Regions from separate parts of the Homo sapiens genome. Here region 1 is linked to region 2. Evidence: fine-mapped expression QTL. A gene starts in region 2. The other region holds a variant in brackets. All regions are shown on one strand. Distances are between the middles of the regions.

Region 1 (5,361 bases), 25 kb after region 2:
CAGGAGACAATTTCTGGTCTCATCTTTTACAGAGCCATTATATAGTGAGTCCAGGATCCCTGGGGGCATGCAGGGGTAGCACAGCTGTGGCAGAGCTGTGACCACTGCCAGGCCTCAATATGGGGACAGCGGAGAAGCAGGGCCCTCTCTTTCAGACCTGAGCATGTGGAAGGTGGAACTTAGGGCAAGTTCCCTCCACCCTCCTTCTTCCCAGCCTGGGGCCAGCCATCCCACTCCCCACTTACTGACCTCTCTGTTCCCTGCCTAGTCCTACAACTGCCCCAGCCCCTACGCAGATGGGCGGCTGTACCAGCCCTACGGAGACTCGGCCGGCTCTCTGCACAGCACCAGTCGCTCGGGCAAGAGTCAGCCCAGCTACATCCCCTTCTTGCTGAGGTGAATCCCGGAGATGGGAGGGTGGAGGAGGGGAGGAGGGGCCCACGCATGCTGGACCCAGGCCAGCCAGCTGTTGGGAGTTGAGGAGCACACACTGTGGCTGACGTGGGGGCCAGCTTGGATTAGAAGCTGTAAGGGACCCACAGCAGGAACCAGGATCCCAGGGGAGAGGAGAGACTGGGACCCTGGGCAAGGGGCCAGGCTGACCCCTCCAGCATGGTCTCATCTTCCTAGGGAGGAGTCCGCACTGAACCCTGGCCAAGGGCCCCCTGGCCTGGGGGATCCAGGCAGCCTGTTCCTGGAAGGTCAAGACCAGCAGCATGGTGAGGACAGAACGCTCTGGCCACCCAGCAGGGCAGTTGGCTGGCTTTTACTGAAGGTGGGTGGAGGTGGCTGGGCTGGCTGTGATCTCTCCCTGGCCTCCTAGATCCTGACACGGACTCCGACAGTGACCTGTCCTTAGAAGACGACCAGAGTGGCTCCTATGCCTCTACCCACTCATCAGACAGTGAGGAGGAAGAAGAGGAGGAGGAAGAGGAGGCCGCCTTCCCTGGAGAGCAGGGCTGGGATAGCCTGCTGGGGCCTGGAGCAGAGAGACTGCCCCTGCACAGTACTCCCAAGGGTGGGCCAGCACTGGGGCTGTGGCCTTTGGGGCCAGTGGGAGGACAGTGGGCCTGGGGTTCTTGGGAAGCAGGACTGGGGTGGTGGCCTCCTGGCTATCTGCCCTCTGTGGGCCTCATCTACTTCCTTTCCCCACCAGATGGGGGCCCAGGGCCTGGCAAGGCCCCCTGGCCAGGAGACTTTGGGACCACAGCAAAAGAGAGTAGTGGCAACGGGGCCCCTGAGGAGCGGCTGCGGGAGAATGGAGATGCCCTGTCTCGAGAGGGGTCCCTAGGCCCCCTTCCAGGCTCTTCTGCCCAGCCTCACAAAGGTGAGTGGGGCACCCCCAGCTGCCGAGCTCCCCTAGTCAGCAGCCTCATACCTCACATTCTCCTGTGGCCGCACCTCACAGCCCCGCCCCGGCCCACAGGCATCCTTAAGAAGAAGTGTCTGCCCACCATCAGCGAGAAGAGCAGCCTCCTGCGGCTCCCCCTGGAGCAATGCACAGGGTCTTCCCGGGGCTCCTCCGCTAGTGAGGGCAGCCGGGGAGGCCCCCCTCCCCGCCCACCGCCCCGGCAGAGCCTCCAGGAGCAGCTGAACGGGGTCATGCCCATCGCCATGAGCATCAAGGCAGGCACGGTGGATGAGGACTCGTCAGGCTCCGAGTGAGTGTGGCCGGGTGGGCGGGACGGGGTGCAGCCCCTCGGAGGCCTCACCTGGGCCCAGAGCTGCCTCCGGGCCTCCCCAGGTGACTCTGGATGGCATTTGGAGGACAAATGGGCAGAACTGGCCCAGCTCCCTTACTATGCCGTGCCCACAAACCATGGTGCCTTGCGGGGAGGGCCACCCCTCCTAGGCTCTACGCGGCGCAGCCCAGCCTAGGGCAGAGTGCGGGAGGATGGGGAGCTGGGGGTGCTTTCCTGTTTCCTTCGTCTGGTGAAAGCTTTCACTCTCTCCTCTGTTTCAACTAACCCTCTGTCTGCCTTTTCTGCCACTTTCCTTTCCTGCCTCTCCAGATTTCTCTTCTTTAACTTCCTGCATTAACCCTGGGCCGTGGTTCCTACGCCCGAGGCTCCCTTCCCTTCCCCAGCCGCACTCATGCCCTGCTCCTGTCTTGTGCTTTATCCTGCCCCGCTCCCCATCGCCTGCCCGCAGCAGCGACGAAACGTCCATCTGAGGAGCCTGGGCCTTGCCGGGAGGGGTACTCACCCCACCTAAGGCCATCTAGTGCCAAC[T/TC]CCCCCCCCACCATTCCCCTCACTGCACTTTGGACCCCTGGGGCCAACATCTCCAAGACAAAGTTTTTCAGAAAAGAGGAAAAAAAGAATTTAAAAAAGGATCTCCACTCTTCATGACTTCAGGGATTCATTTTTTTTATACGCTGGAAATTGACTCCCCTTTCCCTTCCCAAAGAGGATAGGACCTCCCAGGATGCTTCCCAGCCTCTCCTCAGTTTCCCATCTGCTGTGCCTCTGGGAGGAGAGGGACTCCTGGGGGGCCTGCCCCTCATACGCCATCACCAAAAGGAAAGGACAAAGCCACACGCAGCCAGGGCTTCACACCCTTCAGGCTGCACCCGGGCAGGCCTCAGAACGGTGAGGGGCCAGGGCAAAGGGTGTGCCTCGTCCTGCCCGCACTGCCTCTCCCAGGAACTGGAAAAGCCCTGTCCGGTGAGGGGGCAGAAGGACTCAGCGCCCCTGGACCCCCAAATGCTGCATGAACACATTTTCAGGGGAGCCTGTGCCCCCAGGCGGGGGTCGGGCAGCCCCAGCCCCTCTCCTTTTCCTGGACTCTGGCCGTGCGCGGCAGCCCAGGTGTTTGCTCAGTTGCTGACCCAAAAGTGCTTCATTTTTCGTGCCCGCCCCGCGCCCCGGGCAGGCCAGTCATGTGTTAAGTTGCGCTTCTTTGCTGTGATGTGGGTGGGGGAGGAAGAGTAAACACAGTGCTGGCTCGGCTGCCCTGAGGGTGCTCAATCAAGCACAGGTTTCAAGTCTGGGTTCTGGTGTCCACTCACCCACCCCACCCCCCAAAATCAGACAAATGCTACTTTGTCTAACCTGCTGTGGCCTCTGAGACATGTTCTATTTTTAACCCCTTCTTGGAATTGGCTCTCTTCTTCAAAGGACCAGGTCCTGTTCCTCTTTCTCCCCGACTCCACCCCAGCTCCCTGTGAAGAGAGAGTTAATATATTTGTTTTATTTATTTGCTTTTTGTGTTGGGATGGGTTCGTGTCCAGTCCCGGGGGTCTGATATGGCCATCACAGGCTGGGTGTTCCCAGCAGCCCTGGCTTGGGGGCTTGACGCCCTTCCCCTTGCCCCAGGCCATCATCTCCCCACCTCTCCTCCCCTCTCCTCAGTTTTGCCGACTGCTTTTCATCTGAGTCACCATTTACTCCAAGCATGTATTCCAGACTTGTCACTGACTTTCCTTCTGGAGCAGGTGGCTAGAAAAAGAGGCTGTGGGCAGGAAAGAAAGGCTCCTGTTTCTCATTTGTGAGGCCAGCCTCTGGCTTTTCTGCCGTGGATTCTCCCCCGTCTTCTCCCCTCAGCAATTCCTGCAAAGGGTTAAAAATTTAACTGGTTTTTACTACTGATGACTTGATTTAAAAAAAATACAAAGATGCTGGATGCTAACTTGGTACTAACCATCAGATTGTACAGTTTGGTTGTTGCTGTAAATAGGGTAGCGTTTTGTTGTTGTTGTTTTTTCATGCCCCATACTACTGAATAAACTAGTTCTGTGCGGGTACAGCACTGTCACTGTCCGCTTCTGTGTGGTACCCTGTCCTCCCACAGGGAGGAAGGTCTGGTCTCTGGAAAACAGAAGAGCCGGCAGGGCCCAGAAGGCCCCACCGGGAGGTCGGGAGACTCAGACACCACTGGCTGATAAGCCTGTCCCTCTGCCCATGTCCATGACACTGCTCCCAAATAGCTGGATCAGCACAGAGCCCATTTCCTGGCATTTCCAAGGAAGACATGGTGGGCGGGCAGGAAGGTGTCCTTTTCACCAGGACGGAAAGGACTTCTACGGTGGGAGAGGCTGCACGGGGCAGGCAGCCTTCCAGCCCAGCCCCTCAGGGCTGAGTCCTAGACAGGGATGAGTTTTCTGGGGCAGAATTCAAGAAGCAGGGAGGGCTGCATTGAGAGGCTGGTTGGAATTGAATGGTGGTCAGTGACTCAGTGCCTCCTAACTATACTGCTCAGGGTTGTTTTTTGTTTTTTTTTTCCCATTGGAAAATGAAGCAGCTACTCATACTGAAGCCAAGTGTGTGCTTTGCAACATTACTTCTCAGCCTAAGTTTTGTTTTTGTGTATATATATGATATATATTTAAAAGTATATATGCTTTTTAAATTTAATAGAGGCGGGGTCTCACTATGTTGATCAGGCTGGTCTTGAATTCCTAGGCTCAAGTGATCCTCCCGCCTTGGCCTCCCAAACTGGGGTCACAGATATGAGCTACCGCATCCGGCCTAGTTCCAAGTTTTGTGTTTGTCGAAGTTCCATTCAATAAACTAGAAAGGCAGCTGGGTGCGGTGGCTCATGCCTGTAATCCCAGCACTTTGGGAGGCCGAGGTGGACAGATCACCTGAGATCAGGAGTTTGAGACTAGCCTGGGCAACATGGTGAAACTCTGTCTCTACTAAAAATACAAAAAAATTAGCTGGGTGCGGTGGTACATGCCTGTAATCGCAGCTACTCCAGGGGCTGAGACAGGAGAATCACTTGAACCTGGGAGGTGGAGATTGCAGTGAGCTGAGATCGTGCCACTGCACTCCAGCCTGGGTGACAGAGCGAGGCTCCATCTCAAAACAAACAAAAAAACTAGAAAGGGAGTTAACCTGGGGACAATATAGGGTGATGATTAAGAACACAAACCCTAGCTGGGCAGTGGTTCACGCCTGTAATCCCAATACTTTGGGAGGCCAAGGCATGTGGATCACTTGAGGCCAGGAGTTAAGAGACCAGCCTGGCCAACATGGTGAAACCCATATCTACAAAAAATACAAAAAAGCCAGCTGTGGTGGTGCATGCCTGTAGTCCCAGCTACTAGGGAGGCTGAGGTGGGAGGATGGCTCAAACCCAGGAAGTAGAGGCTGCAGTGAGCCAAGATCGCACCACTGCACTCCAGCCTGGGTAATAGAGCCAGACCTTGTCTCAAAAAAAAAAAAAAAAGGACACAAACCCTAGAACCAGACTGAATGACTTAATCTTTCTGAGCCTTAAGTTTCTCTGCCCACAAAATGAGGATGATGATAAAAGCATCCACCTAATTGAGCTTTTATGAGGATTAAGTGAGTTAACACATGTAGAGTGCTTGGAAGAGTTCATAGTACATAGTAAGAGGCCAGTAAACACTGGCTTTCT
Region 2 (5,361 bases):
AGCTCACCTTGTTCTTCCTCACCAGCGTGCTAGGCCACAGCAGAGCCACCCCAATCTTCAGCTCCAGCCAAGCTGATGCTTGCATTTCATTCATTCCTTTCATTCATTCATAGTGTACTGCTTAAGAGAGTGGGCTCTGGGGTCAGATTGCCGGGGTCCAAATCCTAGCTCTTCCATTACTAGCTGTATAATCATGGAGAAGACACTTAATGTGTAGATTAAGTGACTTAACTGATGAATTCCTCTTCCAGGAATGCTGTTCCTGATTCTTGAAGATGCAGCCCAAGTCCCGTCTCCTCTAGAGGCCCTCTGGGATTTCCTCCACCCTCACTGCTCTGTCCTCTGAATTCCTTTAGCCTTTTCTCTCAGTTGCTTCTGGAGCACTTCACCCATGCGACCCTGTTGTGTTGAAAGCCAGGGCCATGCCTTATCCAGGGGGTCCTCAGGAAGCAACCTGAGTAAGGAAATCCCACCAGAGCTAAAGGACAGCCGCAAGGCTAGCCAAGCAGGTTTCCTTCCTTCCCAGAGCCTCCACTGTGAAGTGGGAGGTTTGGACTAGAAGAACAATAAATTCTCTTTTAACAGACCCCAAGCCCTTGCTGCCCCTTGATAGCACCTAAAAGCTATGCAGAAGGGAGGCCTAAATGTCCCTTACACACAGGAGGGAGGTCCATAGGTTCCTTACAACTGGAAAGCTCCATGAAGCAGGCAGCCCTTCCCTGGGGATCAGGGAGGCCTCCACCAGGGCAACCCCTCCCTCATTTGAGACTCTCAGTGATGCATATGAAACTTGGAAATTTCCCTCCTGCTTTTGGGAGTTGGAAGTATCTGAGGAAGTGATGGGGAGAGAGCTCTGTCCTGTGCCCCCGGAGGGAGGACTGGGGAGGATTAAGGACTATTTGCCAAATGTGCTTGGGGATGAAGGAAAGGGTTCCTTGGATCCCCCAACCTATCTGCCTTTGGGTGGAAAGGCCACCCACCTGGAAGGGGCTTCTGAGCTCATGCCTTCCCTGGCAACCCCTGCCTCAAGGTGCAAGGCCCCAGAACCACCTTCCGTGATCCAGAGCCAGGGCTACTCTTTCCTCCCACCCAGAAAGCTTATTTTAGCAACAAAGGGAGCGAGATGAATGGAGAGTTGCAGCTTCTCCACGGGTTGGCTTGGGCCTTCACCAGAAATGAGAGTCTCATTACCCAACCCCAATTCAAAGGATAATTAACAGATGGTATAATTTCCAAGCATTCTCTGCACCACATGGCTATTAGGTGAAGAACAAAATGCCCACGCAGCCCCTAGATCCTTCCAAACTCCAGAGTCTGAGGAAGTCTAGAGAGGCAGAGCCCTGCGGAGGCGTGTAACCCACGCCTCCATCTCCAGAGCTGCCCTTGGCCTTGCTCAGAGGAAGAAAGCTCCTGTTTGGTCAAAGGGGAGGGCATTTCCTTGAGCCATGGGTCCTCCTCCTACTTCTATCCATCCTGCCAGGAGCACAGTCTAACCCTAATCTTTCTTGCTGTACCCAAGGCCCATCTCCTTTCCTGTTTCCCCAGGGGAAAAGAGAAAAGCTGATTTCTCATCCTTGGCCTCACTGTGTGGTCACACAGACACTCCTTGGGCCTGGGGCTGGGGGATCCTCTGCTGTGACCCAGTGAGAGTGGCACCACTGTGACCGGGGGCAGTGGTAGAAGGGAGCACCTGATCCAGTGCTTTTCAGATGGGTTCCTCCAGACCCTCAAGTTGCACAGAGCAGCCCAGGGATTTCTTGGTTGGGGGAGTGGTGGAGAGGGGCAAGGCCCTGACCCCCTCACTTCAACCCAGCAGCACTACTCATCTGTTCTATATTCTGGCCTTCCACTTCAGATTTCTTTTGAAGAAAAGAATTCTACTGCTAAATAAACATTTGAGAACCATTCACCTTATTCAATCCCCTCATTTTACAAAAAGGGACATTGAGGCACAGAATTTGAGCAAGGTCACATAGCTGTGGTGTTGGAGGCTGGGACCCAGGCCCAGGCATCCCCCCAGGCCAGGGCATCCCCCCAGGGACTACCTGACTGGGCCCCTGGCTGCTCCAGGATGTAGGGAAGCCTTTTCTGGGTCGCCTGCACGGCTCCTGCCTGGCTCTCCGTGTGGTCCAGCTTCATGTCTGGTCCTCTTGGAGAACCCCTGGAATCCTGCACACCCTCTCAAATGAAGCTGCCTTGGAGAGGGTCAGGAGCCCGGGTACCAGGTAGGCCTCCTCGCTGGTCACAAAACTGTGGCGGAAGGAGGGGGTAGCCGCAGGACATGGACAGGGAGGCAGGAGGGGATGAGAGGCCGCCTCTCTAGACAGGACCTCAGGGGGCAGTGTAAGCCCCTTGTCTAGAATCCAGGAAGCCTGTGTTAAAGCTAGGCTCCACCGCAGCCGGCCTCCGAATCTGGTGACAGTGTGTTTGCACCACCTGGCTTCCACCCACTCTGACCCTTCTAATTTACTTCCCTGGAAAAGCCCAAGTGGTGTCCAACATGAGGCTGGGGTCATTCTTCCAACAGCCCGACCCCAAGGGGCATGCTGGTCAGACAACAGCCTCGCTGGTGGGGTGGAGGGGACGGTAGGGAGCGAGTGGGCCCGGTGACTCATTGTGGGTGCTTCTCTGGGATTTTGGAGGCTTTGTTGTGTTGCTCAGGGCCCTTTTAACTCTGTCTGACCTATGGGAGGGGACAGCAACGAGGGCTTTTATGACTGGAATGAACTGGAAACTTGGCCTCTGAGAGCCCTTAAAATGTTTTGGAAACCTCTAGGCATACTTAGGGTACTTCCACCATGATTATCATCGGCTGTGTGGCTTCCGATCGCTAATTCGCACCGGGCATCTGGCGAGGCCGGCCTGGGGAAATTGGGATGGAGGGTCCTGCTGGAGGGAATCCTGGCGCTTTGGGCGGAGGAGTGCTCTGGGTGGGGCCCACCTCCTCCAGCGCGGCCGGCGTTGCCGCTTTAAGGCGGCCGCGGCGCGAGCAGGTCTATGGTAATGAGCCGCCGCCGCGACTCTGCAGAGCTCGCCCGCCCGCCGGGGAGGCGAGGGAGCGCGGGGCTGGGCCCGGGGCCGCGGCGACAGGCAGCAGCCGCGGCGGGGACGCGGGGCGCGAGCGGGCGGCGCGGGACCGTCGGGGGCCGCCGGGGCCGGGCCGGGGTCGGGGCGCACGGCTACGCGGGCGCAGGTGGGCGATCCCATAGGGGCGGAGGGGGCACCCCGGCTCCGGAACCCGGGGCCCGGCAAGGCCAGGGGCGCCGCGGGGCCCCCGGGCGCAGGTGGTGAGTGCCCGGAGCGCAGGTGGAGGCGCGGCGGCAGCCCGCGGTGCTCAGGGTGACCCGGGAGCGGGTCTGGCTCAGGGGGCAGTGGGAGCCCGGGCTCGTCGGAGGGTGCAGCGCGGGGTCCCGCCGAGCCATCCAGACGCAGGCCCCGCGGGGCGCACGGGAGGCCCCCGGGGACTGGCGCCCTGGCCCGGGCATGAGGCGCGGCGGGGCCGGCAGGAGCCGGAGGAGGAGCCGCCGCCGCCGTTGACCCGGCCGCCGGCCGGGAGCTGGGAGAGATGCGGAGCCCGGCCACCGGCGTCCCCCTCCCAACGCCGCCGCCGCCGCTGCTGCTGCTGTTGCTGCTGCTGCTGCCGCCGCCACTATTGGGAGACCAAGTGGGGCCCTGTCGTTCCTTGGGGTCCAGGGGACGAGGCTCTTCGGGGGCCTGCGCCCCCATGGGCTGGCTCTGTCCATCCTCAGCGTCGAACCTCTGGCTCTACACCAGCCGCTGCAGGGATGCGGGCACTGAGCTGACTGGCCACCTGGTACCCCACCACGATGGCCTGAGGGTTTGGTGTCCAGAATCCGAGGCCCATATTCCCCTACCACCAGCTCCTGAAGGCTGCCCCTGGAGCTGTCGCCTCCTGGGCATTGGAGGCCACCTTTCCCCACAGGGCAAGCTCACACTGCCCGAGGAGCACCCGTGCTTAAAGGCTCCACGGCTCAGATGCCAGTCCTGCAAGCTGGCACAGGCCCCCGGGCTCAGGGCAGGGGAAAGGTCACCAGAAGAGTCCCTGGGTGGGCGTCGGAAAAGGAATGTAAATACAGCCCCCCAGTTCCAGCCCCCCAGCTACCAGGCCACAGTGCCGGAGAACCAGCCAGCAGGCACCCCTGTTGCATCCCTGAGGGCCATCGACCCGGACGAGGGTGAGGCAGGTCGACTGGAGTACACCATGGATGCCCTCTTTGATAGCCGCTCCAACCAGTTCTTCTCCCTGGACCCAGTCACTGGTGCAGTAACCACAGCCGAGGAGCTGGATCGTGAGACCAAGAGCACCCACGTCTTCAGGGTCACGGCGCAGGACCACGGCATGCCCCGACGAAGTGCCCTGGCTACACTCACCATCTTGGTTACTGACACCAATGACCATGACCCTGTGTTCGAGCAGCAGGAGTACAAGGAGAGCCTCAGGGAGAACCTGGAGGTTGGCTATGAGGTGCTCACTGTCAGGGCCACGGATGGTGATGCCCCTCCCAATGCCAATATTCTGTACCGCCTGCTGGAGGGGTCTGGGGGCAGCCCCTCTGAAGTCTTTGAGATCGACCCTCGCTCTGGGGTGATCCGAACCCGTGGCCCTGTGGATCGGGAAGAGGTGGAATCCTACCAGCTGACGGTAGAGGCAAGTGACCAGGGTCGGGACCCGGGTCCTCGGAGTACCACAGCCGCTGTTTTCCTTTCTGTGGAGGATGACAATGATAATGCCCCCCAGTTTAGTGAGAAGCGCTATGTGGTCCAGGTGAGGGAGGATGTGACTCCAGGGGCCCCAGTACTCCGAGTCACAGCCTCGGATCGAGACAAGGGGAGCAATGCCGTGGTGCACTATAGCATCATGAGTGGCAATGCTCGGGGACAGTTTTATCTGGATGCCCAGACTGGAGCTCTGGATGTGGTGAGCCCTCTTGACTATGAGACGACCAAGGAGTACACCCTACGGGTGCGAGCACAGGATGGTGGCCGTCCCCCACTCTCTAATGTCTCTGGCTTGGTGACAGTACAGGTCCTGGATATCAACGACAATGCCCCCATCTTCGTCAGCACCCCTTTCCAGGCTACTGTCCTGGAGAGTGTCCCCTTAGGCTACCTGGTTCTCCATGTCCAGGCTATCGACGCTGATGCTGGTGACAATGCCCGCCTGGAATACCGCCTTGCTGGGGTGGGACATGACTTCCCCTTCACCATCAACAATGGCACAGGCTGGATCTCTGTGGCTGCTGAACTGGACCGGGAGGAAGTTGATTTCTACAGCTTTGGGGTAGAAGCTCGAGACCATGGCACTCCAGCACTCACTGCCTCGGCCAGTGTCAGCGTGAC

Alleles and levels. Alleles are on the strand shown, and positions count from the first base shown. SD is a standard deviation of normalised expression in the study named.
In carriers of allele T in region 1, the expression in sun-exposed skin of the gene that starts at base 3,025 in region 2 tends to be lower than with TC alone (small effect, 0.20 SD a copy in GTEx).

The links. PIP is the estimated chance that this variant, and not a neighbour inherited with it, causes the effect.
Region 1: its variant is fine-mapped to the expression of CELSR2 in sun-exposed skin (GTEx, PIP above 0.99). The same link has a PIP of 0.9 or more in esophagus mucosa.

What each region holds. Positions count from the first base shown.
Region 1 is chr1:109,272,010-109,277,370 of GRCh38, forward strand. It overlaps CELSR2 (cadherin EGF LAG seven-pass G-type receptor 2), which reads left to right. Exons shown (of 34, transcript NM_001408.3): 29 at 269-396; 30 at 631-719; 31 at 824-1,018; 32 at 1,157-1,327; 33 at 1,427-1,661; 34 at 2,013-3,742. The coding sequence ends at 2,040. Among named protein-coding and RNA genes, the nearest start is that of PSRC1, 8.5 kb to the right of the region's middle. RefSeq lists an enhancer at 2,243-4,274 and cis regulatory regions at 2,955-2,974, 2,959. The variant T/TC (reference allele first, on the strand shown) is at 2,232.
Region 2 is chr1:109,246,515-109,251,875 of GRCh38, forward strand. It overlaps CELSR2 (cadherin EGF LAG seven-pass G-type receptor 2), which reads left to right and starts at 3,025. Exons shown (of 34, transcript NM_001408.3): 1 at 3,025-5,361. The coding sequence starts at 3,566. RefSeq lists an enhancer at 2,342-3,062 and silencers at 3,064-3,123, 3,284-3,383, 4,482-4,672.